2 separate regions of the Homo sapiens genome follow, and region 2 is linked to region 1. A link means that fine-mapping ties the variant in region 1 to the expression of a gene that starts in the linked region. Tissue or cell type: cerebellar hemisphere. Region 1 holds a variant in brackets; the other region holds the start of a gene. All regions are shown on one strand. Distances are between the middles of the regions.

Evidence for each region. PIP is the estimated chance that this variant, and not a neighbour inherited with it, causes the effect.
Region 2: NHSL1 starts here. The variant in region 1 is fine-mapped to the expression of NHSL1 in cerebellar hemisphere (GTEx, PIP above 0.99).

The regions. Positions count from the first base shown.
Region 1 is chr6:138,571,384-138,579,568 of GRCh38, forward strand. It overlaps a transcript of NHSL1 not described here. Among named protein-coding and RNA genes, the nearest start is that of NHSL1, 76 kb to the left of the region's middle. RefSeq lists enhancers at 764-1,520, 5,299-5,799. The variant G/T (reference allele first, on the strand shown) is at 5,093.
Region 2 is chr6:138,495,128-138,503,312 of GRCh38, forward strand. It overlaps NHSL1 (NHS like 1), which reads right to left and starts at 4,367. Exons shown (of 8, transcript NM_001144060.2): 1 at 4,106-4,367; 2 at 1,092-1,244. The coding sequence starts at 4,163.

The DNA of each region.
Region 1 (8,185 bases):
CTCTCTAGCTAGGGTGGTGGGTGGTTTATCATTGAACTTTTCACAAGTCACATGAGCATGTGGCTCTGATGGAGGGAGGGAGGCTGCCGAGAACAAATAACAGCTACTTTATCTTTCTTTGAATGATACAAGATACAAGCTCAAGCTGAGGAAGAGCATTTTTATTTTAGACATGTAAACAAATGACGCCGAATTCCAATACAAAAACAAACATTTCAAAAGAAACTCCTAATGGGGGCAAAAATCATGAAGGGGGAGTGATAGAAACAAAGAATTCTACATAACAAACTTTTTCAAATGTTTAAATTTTTTAAAAATCGAGTCACCTTTTCTGGGCTGGGCTCTGTATATCCAGTTTTCGTCATCCACTTCCACCTGCTGCCCACAAACCGAGAGCTCTCCATCACTGCGAAACAGCCTCTTTGTCTGCCTGGACAAGGAGGAGAAATTTATCCAACTTACAGCACGTGAGAGAGAACCTGTATTCGGCTGGAGTCTGAAGGAACCTGAAGAGCCTTCCTTTTTCATCTTCTTTTCAAAATCAACTAGAGACAAAGAACAGCCCAGCAAACAAAACGCTGGGTTTTTTGCGTTGGCCCAGGTCCTCTCCACGAGCCTGCTGTTTCCCTCTTAGACAACGCTGACAGTCAGGCACCGCATTATCCAAAAAGACGGCTTCTGTGTCACCCAATTAAAAAGAAAGGGAAAAGGAGGGGTTAAGAAAGAAAAGAAAAATGTTTTACCCTAGCCACATTGTGGACTCCGTTTCTAGATCCGCGATATCCACGGCCAAAAAATAATAAACAAATAAAAGTATAATTTAAAAAATGAAGCAGCGTGTTCATTTCAGGAGTACTTGTCAGGACTTTGCAAAACACAAAGCCAAGGCACCCCGACTCTTTGGCGTGTCCCTAGCATCCCAAATTGTAATCCTACTCCTCTCCTGGGCATCTTTCCCCACCAGGGCAGAAAGCCAGCTGCCCTGGTGAAGTAACTCCTCACCCTAGAGAAAAAGAGTCAGGGTCAAGCCAGGCACCCAGTTTACAGTTCACCCACACGGTTACTTGGGAGAAATCAAAGAGCTCAGCTCACTCGCCCCAGCACAGGGCAGAATCATAAACCGCCCACTTGCTCTCCTTCCCGTCTGTGAAGCGCTCGTTCAGAGCCGCAGGACTCCGCAAACAATAAAACCGGCTGCGTGGCTATTGCCTGGATTACAGAGCAAGCACTCCTGCGAAAGACGATAGGCTTTCCCGACACCAAAGGCACCTCATTGGAGACAGAAAACCCCGCCTCTCCACAGTCAATACTTCAGTGGCAGCTCAAACTTCTGAACTTTAGCGCAGCTAGGGGTATGCAAGTCTGTGCAGAATACAGACTTCTGGGCATAAAGAAAAAGAACTTGATTATGAATTATCAAACCATACTTCTGAAACTACAATTTTGAGAAGGGGCTTAATACAGTAGATAGATAGATAGATAGATAGATAGATAGATAGATAGATACATCCAACATTCCTAGATGGATTTAGGAATGTCCATCATTTAAGGAAGTATATTTCCAAAGAGAATATAACGGACCCGGCTATTCACTCCCAGCTTCCAACAAAGGTGAAACGCAGCCATCATTGTACCTGTTACTGTCACTCCTGCCTGTCACCAGCAGCCAGAGTGTGGGGCTGGATCCTCCTCTGCCGTATCACTGGGAGCCCCTGGGGGTTATTCCTCTCCAACCTTGAATGATCATCCTATCACAAAGAGTCATCAGAGAGCTACGCTAGTGGCACTTAGCTGCAGGCTCTAGCCCTGAGCCTCCTCTGCAAACTATCTAGAGCCACAGCTTGCAATGCATTTGGGTGTAGCATTTCACCCAAGGCTAACTTACTACAATTCCACGGTCCTAGGGGTGTTAAAAGTCCCTGCAACTTTCCATCATAGAGACTTGGGTCGGCATCTCCTTCTCCCAAGCGTTATTTGGGGTAAGGCAAATAAGCAACGAGTAGAGAACTAGGTCTGTAGCACTTTGCTTTACTCAGCATCGATCAGATACATTAAAATTAACAAACTGCAATAGAAAATAAACTGATTAAAAATTTTAAAACCAGAATTTTGCATCATACATCTACTCCAATTCACTGAGATTTTAAGAAGAAGGCTCTACAAGCTTACTGGGACAGGAACACTTGTAGAAGATAGTCAGAAGTTCTACAAAGTGTTACTAAGATAGGCAGTTCATATTACACCATGTAAATAATGACAGAGAACAGGTATTACTAAGGCAGAAGCTACAAAGCAGCCTCAGTTTAAAAGCTAAAAGAGTCCTTGAGATCACGTAGTTTAAACTCCATGATTTTCAGATAGGAAAACTCAGGCCCAGAGAAAGTATGTTCATACCCAATGTCACACAGAGAAGTCAGTAATGAGGACCAGGCTGCAGCCGACACCACTTGGATCAGAGATTCACACACTTACCAGGGATGCTTGCTACATCACCAAGTGCTCTGGGCCTGTTTCAGTTATTAATTGCAATAATATCTCCACTTTGACTACCATTATTTTATTTTCTTTTTTTTGAGACAGAGTCTCACTCTGTCGCCCAGGCTGGAGTGCAGTGGCATGATGCAAGCTCTGCCTCCCGGGTTCACACCATTCTCCTGACTCAGCCTCCCGAGTAGCTGGGACCACAGGCGCCTGCCACCACGCCTGGCTAATTTTGTTTTTGTATTTTTAGTAGAGACAGGGTTTCACCGTGTTAGCCAGGATGGTCTCGATCCCCTGACTTTGTGATCCGCCTGCCTTGGCCTCCCAAGGTGCTGGGATTACAGGCGTGAGCCACCGCACCCAGATGACTACCATTATAAAGGCAAAGTTAAAATAGTTGTGCATAACACCAGTGGCTAACATCAAACATCCACTCTCTTCTTTCTGAGTAGAAAACACTTTTTGAGAGTCTCAAAATATAAAAGGAAAAGTAAAAAAAGACCATCTCACCAGAGAAATCCATTAATGCCCCAAATGCTGTTTGCCATTTCACTGGTTCACGAGACCCCCGCCACACATCTGTGCACACTCAAAGGAGCCATGGAACCCAAACAATGAACACAATTCTCTTCTCCCTACTCTCTACATCCTGCAGCTGCATTTTTAATTTAAAAATATCTGGCTGGGCACGGTGGCTTACGTCTGTAATCCCAGCACTTTGGGAGGCCAAGGTAGATGAATCGTTTGAGCTTAGGAGTTCAAGCTCGGCCTGGGAAACATGGCAAAACTCTGTGTCTACAAATAATGCAAAAAAAAAAAAAAAGAAAAGAAAAAAAGTTAAGTCAGGCATGGTGGTACTTGCCTGTGGTCCCAGCTACTCAGGAGGCTGAGGTGGGAGGATCGCTTGAGCCCAGGAAATCGAGGCTTCAGTGAGCTGTGGTTGCACCACTGCACTCCAGCCTGGGCAATAGAGTGAGACCCTATCTCAAAAGAAATAAATAAAAATAAAAAATTATATATATGCTTAAACCTTGTGTGTTCTTCTTTTTTTGGAGACGGAGTTTCCCTCTTGTTGCCCAGGCTGGAGTGCAATGGCGCAATCTCAGCTCATCACAACCTCTGCCTCTCGGGTTCAAGTGATTCTCCTCCCTCAGCCTCCCGAGTAGCTAGGATTACAGGCATATGCCACCACACCCAGCTAATTTTGTATTTTTAGTAGAGACGGGGTTTCTCCATGTTGGTCAGGCTGGTCTCGAACTCCCAACCTCAGGTGATCTGTCTGCCTCGGCCTCCCAAAGTGCTGGGATTACAGACATGAGCCACCGTGCCTGGTCCAAGTGCTATTTTTTATTTACCAGAAGTGCTGTTGAGCGCTTTCCTCAACTCCCCCTCCATGGAATGTGCATACACACAGCAGCAAAGGTGAATTGGTATCATTAGTAACTGGCGTGTTTTCCTCCAGGGCCCCCAACCCTGTACACTTCAAGGAAAGGGTTAACAGGAGAAGCTAAAGGAACATTTCCTGCCAAGCAGCCAAAATGATAACTAGTCCATTCAGGGACTAGACTCATGACTCTCCGTCAAAGTAAGTGCCCACGTCTGCCAGATTTCCAGAAACTGTGCACCCACAAATCATAAGACCTAGGGATACGTTTGTATAATAACCAATTCTCTGTCTACTGGCTAGTCCATATTTCTGTTATATTGGGCCTTGATTATTAAATCTTCATTTATCTAAGAAAGTCAAATAAATTAACTACTTTTACAACTGGATCAGAGTTCCTGTTGATCAAGAGAATATAATGGTTTAAATCAGCTTTGTAGGTAATAATTAGATCTTAACTATGCATATTAGATATATACTCTAATTAGCTTAGAACATCCTAAGTGGGCTTCTTAAGAAGCTACTATATTCACTCAAGCTATATTTGTTTAGCAACCACGATGAACCCCACATTTTAGTTATGTGGATTATCAACCCAAGAGCCATACAAATCAGCCCCTCCTGGCAGCAGGGCCAAGGCTACTTTGTGCCAAAAGCTTCCTGTATATTATTGCTAACCTTCACAATAACCCTGCCGTGGAAAAATCCCTACATTTATTTATTTATTTATTTATTTATTTATTTATTTATTTATTTATTTTGAGGCAGAGTCTCACTCTGTCACTCAGGCCAGAGCGCAGTGGCGCGATCTTGTCTCATTGCAACCTTCGCCTCCCGGGTTTAAGCGATTCTCTTTCCTCAGCCTCCCAAGTAGCTGGAACTACAGGCGCGCATCTCCACGCCTGGCTAATTTTTGTATTTTTAGCAGAGACAGGGTTTTGCCATGTTGGCCAGTCTGATCTCAAACTCCTGATGTCAGGTGATCTGCCCGCCTCAGCCTCCCAAAGTGCTGGGATTACAAGCATGACCCACCGCTCCCCGCCTGCAAATCCTACTTTTACAGTAATTGGTTTTTAAAAAAAATAACTTCAGCTATAATCTTCAAAGTAATGAAAACATCTTAACGTAGCTATTTTTCTCCAAGAAAACCTACATTAGACTGCCTTGTCCCCATGTGAGACAGACGTGCTGAACAGATTTTATCTGCCTTCCTTACCGTGCTGGGCT[G/T]CCCCCTCCCCTCTCACTGTCAGGCTGTCAAATTCGAACTTCTGCTGTCATCACATGTGCCAATAACTGCTCCCTTCCTACCACTTTGCCACTGCTGAGCTTCAGGCCTTAGGAATCACATAAACAGGCTTGTTTAAATTACATGTTTAATGGGAGTTAATGAGGGCTCACGGAATAAAAGGCAGAGCCTCTGTGGAAGGGCTTTGTCGCAGCTGCCTTTGGCCAGCACCCCCCTCCTTCACCAGCGGGACGGAAGCCCCAGGGTTGAAATGGCTGAAATGGCTGGAGGAGCAGACCCTGCATAATGACCCCCAGGTGGATCTTTACACCATGTTTATGATCAATTGCATCTTTTATACTTAGTTCTCCACATTTGAGGGTCACTTACCCATCACTGCTGACAAAGGGACAAGAAATTACTCTATATTACTCTATATATTTCAGAAATGATTTACATAATACATTAAGGAAAATTTAACTATAAAAACTGGAGGCACCAGAATAAATTACTAGAGGAAGTTCTAGAATCATCTCCTTTGGGAATTCCTAAGTCAAATGCCCATGAATTTGGAAAGATTTATCTATGCTTCTACCAAGAGTCAAAGGAATAGACTGAATATATTTGGAAGGTTCTTGCCATAAGACACAATATTTTATGTTTCAGCATATACTGGCATCCTGAAAAAGGAGTTTATCATAAATGAAAGTTGGAGACTTAATAAAAAGTGTTAAAGAGGACAGGATATAGGATTAGACAAACCTTTCAACGCAACCAGGCATGTAATTGCTCTACTCGCCATCTGTGTAAAATGCCAGCCAAAAATAGGAACTAATTTCAAGTGCCATCAGTTTTTTGGCCTCACAGGCCACAAATGAGCACTGTGACTTTTCATTTCCATGTGTAGCTTGCCTGCCCTGTCAAACCTAGCAAAGAGAACAAGAGAGGCAGCACCCTGAAGTTAGAAATCAATGGGAAAACACGGCTGGATTGCAAGCGCCGCTGGGGTTGGCTGGTTTGGCTGGGAGTGAGGTGCATAAACAGAAGGCATGTGAAAAGAGACAAAGGTGCAAAGAGAACCACATAGAGCACAGAAGAGGACTACTCTCAATGGTGTCACGTTCTGAAGTGGCCCTGCCTGGGCTGGGAGCAGTGAAGTGTGCCTCTCATCAGATTACCACATGAATCACCCAGACAACCCACAGGGACCTTTAGCTTAGGACAGCGTACAGTAGGTTTTCCAACTGTCATCTCCTGTGAATAATTTAAGAGTACACTTAAATGGAAATCTTTCTATGAGGTAATTTGTACACACGAATAATGAAAGCTTATCTCAATATCAAAAGTAAATACTTTGAGCCAGATATTTATAATTAAAAAAACAAAACAACCAAACGGTATTACCCCCAGGACCACAGCAAACACATTCCCCATAGTACATTAAATCCTTCTTCCTTTATCCACCTTTCCACCCACCAAGGAATGAAACAAGTGATTGTACTCTAGAAAGAAGTCATGGAAGGCAAAACGCAGCTAATTACCTAATCAGCGCCGGCCCCGTTTTCAGGTTGCCCTCAACTACCACTGCTTTAAAACTTAAAAGAAGGAAAAGCACTGACTTCTCATTAAACCCTGGCTTTAAAAGCCACAGTGCCTTCAACGGAATTAATAGTGTTGTTCCCCTCAAAGGGAAAGACTCAACACAAACATTTATGCATATGTATCACCACCAGCCCAACTCCCACCTTTCAAAGTCTTCATGCCTGAAAAGGGCGAACAGATCTGACATCCTAAGCCTTAGCTGCACTGTCCCCATGGGATCACTTGATACAGAAGCAATATGGCAGATTATTGCTCTCAGTCCCCTAAGGTGCAAGGGGACAAAGGATGTCGCTGGTAAAGAAGCCGCCACTGACACAGAACATGGACGTCAGAGGCTTGGTAAGCAGTACATAACCAAAAATGCAACATCTGTACCAACTTTCACCAAGAAAATGTCCCCAACCTAAGGAGTTCAGATTACAAGAAATCCTAAAACAGCATCAACTTTGAGATTCTTCTAATATAAGAAGACCAAGGGCAAACTTATTCTGAGATCAAAATAAAATTCCAAATAAATAACTTTTTTAAAAATCATGACTTCCTTTGTTCTTGATACCTTTCCTGTAGCCTCTCCAGTGATCACTGTGGTTATTATTTTTTTTAATCTACTCAACCAGTTTTTCTTTTTTTTTGTAAATTGTATTAAGCACTTAAAATCATAGGAGATCTTATTGAAATGCAGAGTGTGATTCAGGTCTGGGGAAGGGACTGCAATTCTGAACTCCTAGAAGCGCCCAAGTGATGCTAGTGCACAGACTGTATTTAAGTTAGCACAGTGCTAGACTATAATGCCCCTGAGGCCAGGAAGCTCATCTGTCATCTTCCTGTCCCTTACAGCAGTGGTCCCCAGCCTTTCTGGCACCAGGGACCAGTTTCATGGAGGACCATTTTTCCATGGACAGCAGGGTAGGGAGTGGTTTCAGGATGAAACTTCCACCTCAGCTCATCAGCAGCATGAGATTCTCATAAGCAGTGTGCAACCTAGATCCCTGGCATGCATGGCTCACAACAGGGTTCGCACTCCTATGAGAATCTAATGCCGCTGCCTGTCTGACAGGAGGTGAAGCTCAGGCAGCAATGCTCGCTTGCCCACAGCTCCCCTCCTGCTGAGCCGCCTGGTTCCTAATAGGCCACAGCCTGGGGTTTGGGGACCCCTGCCTTATAATGCCTTATACACAGCCAGCATTTAGCCAATGTTGGTTGACAGGGTGAAAAAAATGGAACCATCCATCATTTCCATGTTACCTTTTTATTTTGATCTTAACAAGTTTCAGCGTAAGGAGATAATTAGGCCTTTATAGCAATCATTCCTTTATCACTAAATCACAAAAAGCAAAAGTAAAATGTATAAACTGGCAAAAAGTATACAACCTGAATTAAAGGGTTAATAATAAAACCCCATTCATATGGCCATACTGTTTCACTTTGGGAAGAAAGAAGCTTATTAACTGATAGGCGTATGCTTTTCTTCATTTATTAGGACATCTTCACTG
Region 2 (8,185 bases), 76 kb before region 1:
AGCTACTCAGAAGGCTGAGGCAGGAGAATGGCTCAAACCTGGGAGGTGGAGGTTGCAGTGAGCCGAGATCACACCACTGCACTCCAGCCTGGGTGACAGAGTGAGACTCCATCTCAATAAGAAAAACAAACCACAATGAACTGAAGTAAAAATGAGAATTTTAAACTAGATATAGGAATACATTCTTCCTATATTTTCTACTTGACCAAGTATACCTTGCTCATCTGCTGGCAGAACCTAGGCTCAGAGGAGCCCAGTTGGGTGATACCCCAGTTCTGATAAATCAAACCATTTAGCATGTCTTCAAAGTCTATACATAGGTCCTTTTTCCAGCCAGCTTGAACTAAACAGAACAAACAAGTGTGTTCAAAAAAACAAATTGGTTTTGAATACTTACAATGGTTTTAAAAAGACAGTGGCAAAACTGCCCATGTCAGCAGTGGTTTATTTGGATCAAATTAACACTGGCGGTTTAAACATGCTAAAGTGTTTCTAAGAAGGTGTGGGCTCCTGGAAACAGATTTGCATATCTGCAAATAGGCAAGTTTCTGCAGAGACCAGAACATCTTAGGCATGTGTATTATCCCATTTTCACACTGCTGAAAAAGATATACCCAAGACTGGGAAATTTATAAAGAAAAAGAGGTTTAATGGACTCATAGTTCCACATGGCTGGGGAGGCCGCACAATCATGGCAGAAGGTGAAAGGCACGTCTTATATGGCGGCAGACAAGAGAGAATTGACAGCCAAGCAAAAGGGGTGTCCCCTTATAAAACCATCAGATTTCATGAGACTCATTCACTATCATGAGAACAGTATGGGGGAAATTGGCCCCATGATTCAATTATCTCCCACTGGGTCCCTCCTACAACACAGGGGAATTATGGGAGCTACAATTCAAGATGAGATTTGGGTGGGGACACAGCCAAACCATATCAGCATGTATTAGGTTGTATTTATGATATCGTATAAAGACGTAGCATACTATACATTCAATAAAAGTAGAGCTGGTTTTATAAATAGATATCAAATTTATGCTCTCAGCAGCCAGTAACCCAAGAAAATAAGCTCACAGAGGATGCCATCTTACCCCTCAGTACTGATTTGAGGTTGAGCTTGGCTTGGCGGTGCAGGTCCTCAACACAGGGGGGTCTTGTGGTGGGAAGGAACACATTCTCCTGCTGGTGCCACGGGGCAGTGTAGTGGACTGTCCATCGGCTTTCCTCATCTAGGTTGGAAACCGCTATAGAAAAAAAGATAGAATACATTCAGGTGTCAACTTCATTGGCTACGAGTTCATTACATCATGATGTGTTTCCATGTCTAACACATCCACGGGTAAGGGCCAGCAAGGGAGCAATGGAGCAAATCCTAAATTAGTTTTAATCTTAGATTCCAGGGGTCTCGCCCACAGTGTTTTACTTATAAAAGAAAAGCTGAAAGTGTCCACCCTCCAAACAATGTTTTCATAGAATCATTTGCTCAGTTAACTGCTTCCCAGCATTTTAGGTCCTCCCTTTACTCCAATGTTTGAAAACATCTGACAGAATTGATAGAGACCTCCAATTCCTACTTAACCCCCCTCGCACACACACAACAAATAGCAGTTACTCAACTGTATAATGCCATCGCAACAGTAAATGTTAGACTGTCCTGATAGAAATGAATTTCCTACCAGGAGGTTTATAACAAATATTCTCCCTCTACAGCATTATTTAAAGAGCATCACTGTTATAAACTCAATTACATTTTTAAAAAATTAAGCGTAAACATTCAATTTACATGTAAATGACATAGCTAATACATGTGGAGACCCATTTGTGTTACAAAATTCTCTCTGCATTTCTTGCTTTCATGAAACCCTTTTATATTAAACATTTTTAAAATTACAATGCAATTGACTCTTCCCAACACAATCCAGTTCAACTAAATTTTCCCAGCACAGAAGAGACCAAGACATTAGAGGACAAAATAACAGGTAAAATCCTGAGAGTAAGATAAATCTCTACAATAATTTTTCTTTAAATCCTCGGAGGCTTGAGACCTCTCTAGTTCATTTTTCCTGACAACACGAGCTAAGTTGGGGCATCAGTGGAGCCCAAAATGAGGCCGACAGCACCAAAACAAATTCATCAACAATGTTTTAATACTTTCTATATACCTGCCATGTAACCCAGGCATAAGAGAGACTGGAAAGGTACTGGAGAAAGTCCTTGTGCTGAGGCATTTGCTTGAGGTAGCAAGTCTAACCCCTGTAAAGCCAGCAGATACTTGAATTGTGAGTGAGGAGCAAGTCTTCCTGACTCTGATCTATGCTATAGAGTTCACACTGGGCGTATCCATGTCCCCAACATAACATGTACCTGGAAACTAGACCATAAAATGAATTCTCAAAGTAACATGAGAACACACGCATAAACTATTAAATCCATTTGAGCACATCTAAAATTCACTAAACATACTCTATAGCACAGTTATTAGGGCTACTCTAAAGATCAAATGAACCAATATACATAAAGTACTTAGCTCAAGAAATAACTCAGGTAAAACATGGTTGTGGCAGGAACAGTAAAAATTATTCTAACGAGGCCCCAAACTTTGAACTGTCACTGTCTCTTGTAAACCTGGGCCACATGCTAGCGCTCATCTCACATACCATCTTTTCTGCAGCTACTAAATTTTACAATCTTATGAATCTGAACAGGATAACTCATTTTCAAAAGGACCCCACCTTCTCCGTAAGTTGCTAAATGAGAAAATAAACATTGAGAACTAGATATCAAGTTAAAAACAGAAATGTCCATTGTGCTTTCTGCTTAGTATTTGACAAAAGCAGTATGTGAATTTGGCACCTAGTATTTCATGTAAACTCTTGTTGAGCAAATGTTTTGCATGGTGCATACAACTATCAATCTTAATACACAAAATCCACAAAGACCTGACTTAACCCTCATTTGTGTTTCAGAAGAATCTAGCATTGGGCCAAACTCACCATATGTCCCCCCAAAGTGTAGCCAGAGTTCATCACAGTGTTTTGTGCTGATGTCCATTTATTTTAAAGACTGAGTTACCATACTTCAGAGTTAGAAACTATTGAAAATGGAAACTTTTCCTATTCGACAATTTCAAATCAAATCCAAGTAATGGCATTCGTGTCTGCACCATCAATCGCACCATCGGCCCCACTGCACAGCTACCAACTGGCTCCTATGAAAAAGTCTCTTCCCCTCGTGTTCCTCACTCTCGCCAGGGCCACTTTTAATCTGTTCATCCAAAGGCAGCCTTTAGCAAGGAGCTGCAGAAAATCAGCCCACCGTGCTGCTCTTTGTAGCTTTCTCCAAAGCTCCTCTTACCAATGCCCCTACCCATGTTCATTTATCCAGTATAAGTCACTGGTCCAAACACTAAACTAAACTAAAATAAAATAAACCACCGACTATGTAAAAACAAAGCCAAGTAGTTATAAAAATTATTATTTTCAAGAGAATGAAGAAGCACCTACATTAAAGAAATGTAAGTCAATGGTAAGTACACAATAAAGCCACATCACAAAAGTTCTGTACCTTACAACAATCACTGATCAGTCTAGACAGTTTGTGCTCGAGCTCTTAAATACACAACAAAGAGTGCCAGGGAGTTTCAGGGGATTATCTCCACCAGAAATATGTGATACATTACACAGAGGCTCCCTTACCTCAGCTGCATATTTATCCAAAGAATCAAAAAATCATACACTTGATATCAAGGGAAACATAAATTAAGTACAAGAATTTCCCCCCTCTTCAAAGGACTTCTTTTGAAAAGCACAGAAGAAGTGAATTCACTTAAAACCCCAATCATAAATAAATAAGACATGCTAAGATCACATAATACTGTCCTAGAGTTACAAAAGTCTGAGGTATTTAAACAACCTGGTATAGAGTAGAGTTTAACTCATGCCTATTACGCTGTTTCACACTCTAATTTCTTCACACAAAAGAACGAAGGACCTAAAACACACACATGGACACACACACACACACACACACACAGACACACAGGGACATATACACATATGGAAACATATGCACACAATAGGTAGTAGAGAGAAAAGGAACTACTTACTTTTCTTCTTAAAAAGTTTAATTAAAGACTTAATCTTTGCATTAATGAAGACCACCATTTCCAGGGCACCTACATAGAGCTTAGAAATGTAAATCACATTAAAAGCTCAGCCCAGTAGGCAGGTGGCAAGCTTCGTCCTTCTGCTACAGATTCTAACTTTTTCTTCCCCCGGTCTCATATCCTTAGACATCTGCCCAGGCTGATGTAACTGAGGTTGAGTTTATTGTCAGGCAGTTACAAACCATTAACAGTCCTTGAACCTGAAAAACTCCTACTGAAACCTAATCTTTAAGGCTGAGAGCAGCCAGTGACATCGTGCGCTGAAAGAAAGAGAAAGCCAATCACGGTTCTTATTTGCATGACAGCCACATCAGGCTTTCTGCCTCAGTGCCCATTCATTCAGTTTTCTCTCCAACAGATCAGAAGTTCCTCCTCTCTGAGCCCACAAAAATAGTGCAGACTTTCCTCTACGGAAGTCAAGATGAAACAAATGTGTTCCCCATTTCATTAGGCCCCTATGAACACCCAGATCTTTTACAGGAGCTGCCAAGTCTGACAGCAATTCCAGTTAATTCAGGGTATATGGGATTTGAACTGATTTAGGGGGGAAAAAAACCAAACTATTGTTTCCCAACCACGCCCCAGGCTCTGCCTCCGATACCAAAGGAACTTGTACAAGCAGTAAAACTTTAGAATAGAATCTCCAAGGAGCTGCAAATGATGACTTGGTTGCATTTTTGTGCAAATTAGGATGCTCTGTCTTCTCACCCTTCTTTGCCAGTGATTGAGAATCAGCATTGTGTGTTCCAAAGCATGATCTTATTTGCATCTAGCTGCCACAACAATCAAGAAAAAAAAAAATCCACCAAAAAAAATACAACTTCCCCACTCCAAATGATAAATTAGATAAAGTACCCTAATCATTTTAATCTTTATTTTATATGTAATTGTCACTTAGGCTCCTGGTTTTCAGAATTCCATAATCGCCCTTCCCTCAATGTTGTCTCAAACAAACATTATCTGAGTTACTCTTTAACTTGAATCTACCATCCAGAGTGCTGGTTCTTTTGCCCATTGGCAATTAACCACAGAGAACTAGGGAAGCACAAGTAGAGACAGAGAAATCAGAAACAGAGTATAAGAAGGCACTGAAAAAACATATTCCAGGGGTAAAGGGATAGGAAAAAAGAGGAGAATATAGATCCGGAAATACTATGACAACGGAAAAAGGAAAAGAATCTTCCTCACATCTCAGCCCAGTTCCACTTCATGGCCAAACACTTTTGAAACAATTTAGACAACCTCTTATTTCATAGCTTTGGGCCAGACTTATAACTCAATGGAAAAATGTAATAATCCACTAATTCAAAACATTTAGTTTATAACAAAGGCTCTTAGTCAAAGAATAAAATTTATATAAGGGGCTCTGTCTAGGGAAAGCTTTGAAATGATTCCTTCTCAGGTCTTTTTATGCCCTTTATTTTTTCAACAACAACAAAACAAAAGAACACATAGGGGAAAGCTTTGAAATGATTCCTTCTCAGGTCTTTTTATGCCCTTTATTTTTTCAACAACAACAAAACAAAAGAACACATAGAAACGTTACCATCTTATCATACATATTATCACAGATTTCCAATTTGTGTTATTTCATTTTATATATAGCTTTATTTTAAAGTAATTAAATTGCCAGATGGCAAATGAGAAACGACTGAGCCTGTAAGTCAGATTATGTGGCTGCCTTAAATTAGCGGGCAAAGTTCCCCTTTGGAAAACAAATTTATCTGCAAGAGTGACCTCGCTCTGCTCATTGCATTAGACACAAGGAGAGTTGTGGGCAAAAACACTCATATGCACAATCCACAAGTGTTTGAGGTTAAGTGTCACCATGCAAATGTCCAGTGAAAACAGAAATTGTTCTTTCAAGAAACTCTGATTATGCTCAACCCTCCATAGCATGTAGCTTTCCATGTGCTCAACAATGGCATCTGAATATAGATTCGTTCATCAGAAAGATAAATACCAGGCACCGATGCTAACTGCTACTCTTTCATTTCATTGGGATACATCATTGGACAAAATAGGTGAGATCCCTGCCCTCATGGAGCTTAAATTATTTGACACTGAACTACAATTTTGTGGTATATTAGAAGGAGTTGAGTGCAACAGACAAAATAAAAAAGTTAAGCAACATAAAAGGGGGTTTGAGGGTGGCCAGGCTGCAGCATCGTAGGAGTCAGGGTGGTCCTCGTGAAAAGTCGAGATTTGAGCAAAACCTTGAAGGAGGCAATGGCAAGAAAACAAAACTGTGTAATGAATCTCACTGGCTCTCATTTTAAAGAGAGAGAGAGAGATTCCTCAGGCTGTGAGACACATTTCCATCCCCCAGGACTAGAGAAGTGCTCTTTCCTCTCAGAAAATGAACTGTAGGAAGAATCTTGCATGGGGTAATTTCCTTTCTCACTCAATATTAAGTGTGATATAAAGTGGCCGCAGTTGTTCCTCTGTATCCATTCCAGGATGCCCCTTGGATACAAAAATCCTTGGATGCTCCAGTCCCTGATATAAAATACTGTAGTATTTGCATGCAACCTATGCACATCTTCCCATATACTTTAAATCATCTCTACATTACTTATAGTACCTAATACAATGTAAATGCTACGTAAGTAGTTGTTATACTGTATTGGTTTAAAAATATGTATTTTTTTTATTGCTGCATTACTTTTATTGTGGTTTTTTCCCCAAATATTTTTGTTCCATGGTTGCTTGAATCCACGGAAGTGGAACCTGTGGATATGGAGAGCCAACTGTACTTGGTTACACACGAGTAAGTGGTAAACCTGGGGGAGAATGCAGGCTTCCATCCCGGCATCCTAGGATGTCTCATCCTCTGTGCATTATTCCACACTGCCACATAACACCATAAAATCCAGATCTCCAGGAAATAAACCAAATAAACTATCACATTTCTTGCGTTCTATATTAAGTTGTATTTTGAAAGCACTTATTAATTAGAAAGTTTACCCAATCAATTGCCAGCTCTTACTTTACATCCTTGATATGAGCATGAGCACAGGGAAATGTTTTCATCATATAATCTGCATGCCTCAATGCTGTGGTTGATGGAAGAGCCGTATTCTTCTGGAACTGTATTTTTTAATTGTTCAATTTATACGTGCAACAGAAAAGATATAAATCCATGGTACTTCTGATGCCTACTTCAGCCATATATGACAGTGGCGGAAAAAAAAAAAAAGTTTTTATAAAGATAGGGTACTATGTTGCCCGGCTGTTCTCAAACTCCTGGCCTCCAGCAATCCTCCCACCTCAGCTTCCCAAAGTGTTTGGATTACAAGCAAGGCCCATTGCACAGGGCAAAAAAAGAAAAAGAAATGTTCTAATGAACTAGACATGAAAAACTTGACACTAATGCATAATAGCGAAAAGCAGTCCCCCTCTGGAACCATCCTACCCAGGTTACCAGCCACTGACCAGAGGAGTGACCCCTCCATGCCTTGGTTTGCTCATCTGTAAAACGGGATAACAACAGTGTTTATATCACCAGGTCATGATGAAAACTAAGAGTTATTATTGATAAACTCCTTAGAACAGTACCTGGTATGTAAACATACGTAAGTGTATGTTAAATCAATGAATAAAATCTCAAGAGATAGCTTAGCAGCCTTCTGCTTAATAAAGGGCCATGCTTTCATGCAAGGGAATCAGTGTAGCAGACCCCATGGCTGTCTTCCTACTTGTCTCTGACTTAAACTGCCAACACCTCGAGTAATTGCTCTATACCCCCTGCTTCCAATTTATATCCACATACTATCTTTTCTATTGTCTAAGATTTTATTTCAATTTTTAAAAAATTCTCAGTGGTCATCGGTGAATTTCTGACTCCTACTAATGGTGTTTTTCTTTCTCCTCACCTTCCTAATGATCTTCTTAATCATATACTTCCAACCACCCAGCTCTTGATCCTCTTCATTGACACTGCAACACACTAGTTCCTCTCCTGCATATGATGGCTCCTTCTCCGAATTCCAACAAAGTCTAACCAAGCTTCAAAGATCT